2 separate regions of the Homo sapiens genome follow, and region 1 is linked to region 2. The links come from fine-mapping of genetic effects on gene expression. A gene starts in region 2. The other region holds a variant in brackets. All regions are shown on one strand. Distances are from middle to middle. Region 1 overlaps PHF7 (PHD finger protein 7). Region 2 holds the start of DNAH1 (dynein axonemal heavy chain 1).

The links. PIP is the estimated chance that this variant, and not a neighbour inherited with it, causes the effect.
Region 1: its variant is the best candidate, but not a certain one, in a credible set for the expression of DNAH1 in testis (GTEx, PIP 0.64).

The regions. Positions count from the first base shown.
Region 1 is chr3:52,415,180-52,417,895 of GRCh38, forward strand. The region is part of intron 4 of PHF7 (PHD finger protein 7); the gene reads left to right. Among named protein-coding and RNA genes, the nearest start is that of PHF7, 5.9 kb to the left of the region's middle. The variant C/T (reference allele first, on the strand shown) is at 1,097.
Region 2 is chr3:52,314,948-52,317,971 of GRCh38, forward strand. It overlaps DNAH1 (dynein axonemal heavy chain 1), which reads left to right and starts at 1,372. Exons shown (of 78, transcript NM_015512.5): 1 at 1,372-1,598. RefSeq lists an enhancer at 1,886-2,824 and a silencer at 2,763-2,992.

The DNA of each region.
Region 1 (2,716 bases), 100 kb after region 2:
ATACTGTAAAAATCACCAATTTTTTTCTTTTTTTGAGAACGGAGTCTCACTCTCTTGCCCAGGCTAGAGTGCAGTGGCGTGATCCCGGCTCACTGCAACCTCTGCCTCCCTGGTTCAAGTGATTCTCCTGCCTCAGCCTCCCAAGTAGCTGGGATTACAGACACCTACCACCATGCCTGGCTAATTTTGTATTTTTAGTAGAGACAGGTTTCACCGTGTTAGCCAGGCTGGTCTTGAACAAAATTCACTAATTTTAAGGGTCCAGTTTGATAAGTTTTGATAAATGTATGTCCCCAAATAACCACCACCCCAATCAAAATAGGTAATATTTTCATCACCCCAGAAAGTTCCCTCCTGCCTCCTTTTCCAGTCAATCCCACTAGACGTAATCACTGTTCTGATCTATGGATTATTTTTGGCTATTCTTTTACTTCATATAAGTGAAATCATATAGTTTATAATCTTCTGTATCTGGCTTTTTTCTCCCAACACAGTGTTTTGGAGATTCATCCATGTTGTTGCATGCATTCATAGCTTGTGCCTTTTTATTACTTGGTAGTATTCGGTTGCATGAATAAGTTACTATTTGCTTATCTGTTCACCTGTTGATGAACATCTGAATTGTTTCCATTTGAGGACTATTATGAATAAAGCTACTTTAAGCATTCATGTACAAGTCTCTTTGTGAACATGTGCTTTCACTTCTCTTGTGCAGATGCCTAGAAGTGGAATTACTAGTTGTATGCTAATTAGATATTTAACTTTATGTGAGGTTGCCACATCACTGTCCAAAGCGGTTGTACCAGCTTACACTCCTACCAGCAATTTATAAGAAGTCCAGTTGCACAGTATTCTTGCCGGAACTTTGTTTTGTCAGTGTTCTTAATTTTAGCCATTCTACTGGGTGTGTATTGGTATTTCATTGTCGTTTTAATTTCCATTTTTCTGATGACTAAAGCTTCTTTTCATGTGCATATTGGCCATTCACATATTTTCTTTGGTTTTTTGGTTTTTTTTTTTTTTTGAGATGGAGTCTCGCTCTGTCGCCCAGGCTGGAGTGCAGTGGTATGATCTTGGCTCACTGCAGCCTCCACCT[C/T]CCGGGTTGGAGCAATTCTCCTGCATCAGCCTCCCAAGTAGCTGGGACTACAGGTGCCTGTCACCACGCATGGCTAATTTTTATATTTTTAGTAGAGACAGGGTTTCACCGTGTTAGCCAGGATGGTCTCGATCTCTTGACCTCGTGATCTGCCCACCTCGGCCTCCCAAAGTGCTGGGATTACAGGCGTGAGCCACCGCGCCTGGCCCGGCCCACATATTTTCGTTTGTTAAGTATCTGTACAAATATTTTTACCCATTTAAAAACACTGAGTGGTGGTCGGGCACAGTGGCTCACGCCTGTAATCCCAGAACTTTGGGAGGCCGAGGCGAGCAGATCAAGAGGTCAGGAGATGGAGACCATCCTGGCTAACACGGTGAAACCCTGTGTCTACTAAAAATAAAAAAATTAGCCGGGCATGGTGGCAGGCGCCTGTAGTCCCAGCTACTCGGGAGGCTGAGGCAGGAGAATGGCGTGAACCCAGGAAGTGGAGCTTGCAGTGAGCCGAGATCACGCCACTGCACTCCAGCCTGGGCGACAGTGCAAGACTCCGTCTCAAAAAAAAAAAAAAAAAATTGAGTGGTTTTATTATTGAGTTGTAGGAATTGCTTATATATTTCAGATACAAATTCTTTTTCAAATATATGTATTGAGACTATTTTCTTCCTAGTCTTTGGCTTGCCTTTTCATTTTCTTAATGGTGTCTTTCAAAGAACAAGTTTGTAATTGTAATGGAGCCCAGTTTATCCATTTTTTTCTTTTATGGTCAGTGCTTTTTGTGTGTTGCAAGAAATCTTTACCTACCCATAGAATTGCCTTGGTGCCTTTGTCAAAATCAATTGACCATATATCTGTGGATCTGGATAATCTATTTATGTCATTGATCTATGTATCTATTCTTACACAAGTCCCCACTGTCTTGATTATTGTGGCTTTATAGTATATTGAAATTCAGTATTGTTAAGTTCTACAATCTTTTCCAAGATTGTTTTGACTATCAGGTCCTTTCTTTATAAAGTTTATATTAAGCTTGTCAATTTTTCTTTAAAAAAAAAGTCTACTGGGATTGTGATTGGGATTGCATTGAATTTATAGGTCAATTTGGGAAGAATTGACAAAAAATATTGAACCTTCCAATCCATGGACATGGTATATTTTTCCACTTATTTGGGTCTTTTAAAATATATCTCAGCAATGTTTTGTTGTTTTGGTGACAAAGTCTTGTACATCTTTTGTTAAATGTATTCCTAAATATTCTGTGGTTATGCTATTGTAAATAGTATTTTTATTTCATTTTTAAGTTTATTGCTGGTATATAGAAATGCATTTTATTTTTGTATATTGATTTGTATCCTGTAATCTTGTTAAATTGAGTTTGATTAGTTGTTTTTTTATTTTGTTGTAAATGCCTTGTTACAGGATTCCCTATGCACATAACCATGTCATGTGTGAATAAAGACAGTTCTACTTCTTTCTCTCAATCTTTGCCTTTTATTTCTTCTTGCCTTGTTGTATTGGCTAGGACCTTTAACCTAACATTGAATAGAAGTGGTGTGAGTTGTTATCCTTGTCTTGTTCCCAACATCAGGGGACAGCATCTAGTTTTTCACTATTAAAGTA
Region 2 (3,024 bases):
TTCTACTCCTTGCTTGAGCTCTGGGCTTTCAAGGTCTTGTCTGTCAAGGTGATCATGTGGATCAAAGGAGAATTAAATTTTCTCCATTTTTATTCATCAAAGAAATGATTATGCTGGTCAGAACTGCTGAGGGCAGCTGAGCAATGGCAGGGAGGCTTATGTCGGGGAGGCCTGGGGAGGCAGTGAATCGTAGACCTCACCCATTCCCTTCTCTGACACCCCCCGCCCCCGATGCCTGCAACTCACTTTCTTGTGGCATAGCTCAGAGCTCCAGGCCTAGAAAATCAGAGGAAGATCCTGGGGGCCCAAGAGGGAGGCTGGGGACAGGTGGGGAGCGGGTAGCTCAGCCACTCAGTCTGGATGCCTGTCACCTTCCGTTCTGGCTGGCCAGCCACATGAAGGGCCCATTCTGCTGCCCATTCACAAGGGGCTTTCATCTCTGCAGCCAGTGAAGCATTGCTCCCATCTCAGCCAGCAAGGAGACACAGGGGAGGGGGTGTGCAGACTTGCCATGACCTCAGACTCCATGCTGGAAAGGCATGGCCCTGGGCCAGGGCATCCTAAGCAGCCCATCTGCCCCAATCCCCCAGCTTCCAGGCCACCAGAGTCCTCAGCAAGGGGGATCTGAGTAAGAGATGGGCAGTGACTCCCCAACTCTTGTAGAAACCTAGTCCTCCCATTTCAACAAGGGTAAGGCTGACCTCTCTTCCAGCTTATTCAGGGCAAAAGATGGCCCTCCCATCACAAGAGGGGCAGGAGTCCAGTGGGTCATGGCTCAGCCCCCTGCTCCTTTCCCAGGGAGCAAGGTAAGTATGGTGGCCTTCAGGACAGGGCAGGAAGACCAAAGCCTGAACCCTTGCGCAGCCATGGGAGAAGACAGCACATTAGAGGGTAGCCCCTGAGACCCAGGAGAACAGGGACTGACTCACGGTGTCCTTCCAGGGAGGAGGGAGGCAGTCATATCCACAGCCCGCCCTTGAAGAGGGGCGAAGTGGAGCTGGCAGGGCTGCTGGTAAAAGCAGCACCCCCGACCCCCACCCCTCAAGTCCATTCTCCAGTTGGGAGAAACAGCAGTGACCATCACATGGTAAGCAGTGAGTGGTTCTGTGAGCTGGGCCTCCTGAGAGTGGACCCTTTCAGCTGTGGCCTGTCCATCTGTCCAGCAGCCACAGCCCCTGTGATGTCACCAGCCCACTGTGTTGCTTGGCAACTTTCCAGGATTAGCATTCTGCCCCTCTCATCCCTGACATCCCACCATAGGCTGATGTTGCCATGGCAACCCGGATAGATGCTGCAGCTTTTTGGACAGCTGTACCTAGTGTGGGAAGTGCCAGGCAAAAGCAGGGAAGCAGGTGCCTCTCTACAGGCCAAGGGGGGTACCCAACCTATACGCAGACCCATTGAGCAGCCAGACTGCCCTAAACAGGGCTATGGAGTCCTTGTCCCTTCTAAGAGCTGTGGACACCTTGCCTCCAGTTCCCCTCACAGTCCTTTCTTCCTTCTGCAGTGATCACTGAGTACCTGTGTGAATGCCAACAAGAAAAATAAAACCACAGTTTGGATTCAGGAAAGGTTGCACCACCATCAGGTCTTGAAGGGTGAGTAGGAGTCCGCCAGATGCAGGAGTGGATGGAGACAGGTTCTAGACAGAGGAAGCAGAAGCCTGTGCAAGGGCTGAACCACTGTCTCCAGGCATAGATTACACCCTGCCTCTAGGTTCCTCATGGCCTGGCCTCTCCATCTTTCCCACTCAATACACTTTATGGTGGGGATAGGGTCCAGTTCAGTTCCAGACACTTAGTGCCCAGCAACAGGCCTGGCACCAAGCCAGCACGACTAAAATGCCAAGTAAAATTCAACATCAGGGCCTATGACCTCCCCTAGTACTAACCGTCTCAGCAAGTCTGTTTCCCCATCTGTGAAATGGGGCCAGTTTTGAGAAGGCTGTGGGCAGGGGTTCTCAGGTACAGATGGGGTGATGTTTTTCTTTTGGTTCTTTTGGTTTGTAAACCACTTCTTTCCCTTACAGAAAAAATTGGAAGACTAGTACATGGACATCTGTGACCTTCAGATTCCCTAATTGTTATATTGCAGCACTTTTGCTTTATCTCCTCTTTGTCTTTTTATCTAGCTATGCTTACCTATATGTATAATTTTTGCTGAACCATTTGAAAGGAAATTGTAGCGGACATTCTGACGTGTTTCTTCAAACACTTCAGGCCACGTCAACTAAGGACAGTCTGATACAACCACAGTAGCATTATCACATCTAAGAAAATTAACAATAATTCAATATTCAGAATAGGGCAGGAAGATCAAAACCTGAACCCATGCCAGGTGCTGAGAGCAGATGAGGGGCATCAGAGGGTGGGCGCCCGAGCCGAGGGGTGTCGGGCGCATCCGCTGCCCAGCGGAAGCGGCGGCCTGAGTGGAGTCACCGTGCAATGGGTGGGTGTGGCTTTGTGAGCCAAGCCCCAGGAGAACCAGAACCCACCTTTTCCTCAGTGCCCTGACCAGCTGTCCCGCAGCTGTGGCTTAAATGCCAACTTCCAGTTCGTAAATTTCTTCAATTATTCCTCCCCAAATTATTTACATATGTATATGTATTTAAATCAGGATTTAATCAAAGTTCTCACGCTGCATTTAGCTGTTTCGCTGCTTACTCTAAAAGGGCACAGGAGGGAAGATGGGTGGGTAATGGAGCCTAGAAGAGTGACGCTCCCTGGTCGGCCCTAATCCTGCCGATCGGGGCATATGCTGGAACATCCCAGTCCCACTGTCCTGGGCGGAAGTAACCGAGACCTGGAGTTGGTGGGTAGGTAAGGGTTCAGGCTGGGGAGGTTCGCGGACGGAAGCTCCCGCCCTGCGGTGCCGGATGGCCCCGCCCCTTAGCAACGGCCTAGCGTCCCTCCCTAGAGACGGGGCTGATGCATCCCCGCACTGCTCGGTGGAACCGGTACGTCGGTGAGGCGGAGGGGTTGCGGGGCCAGCGCGGGCAGCGGGACCTCGAAAAGGCGCGGAGGG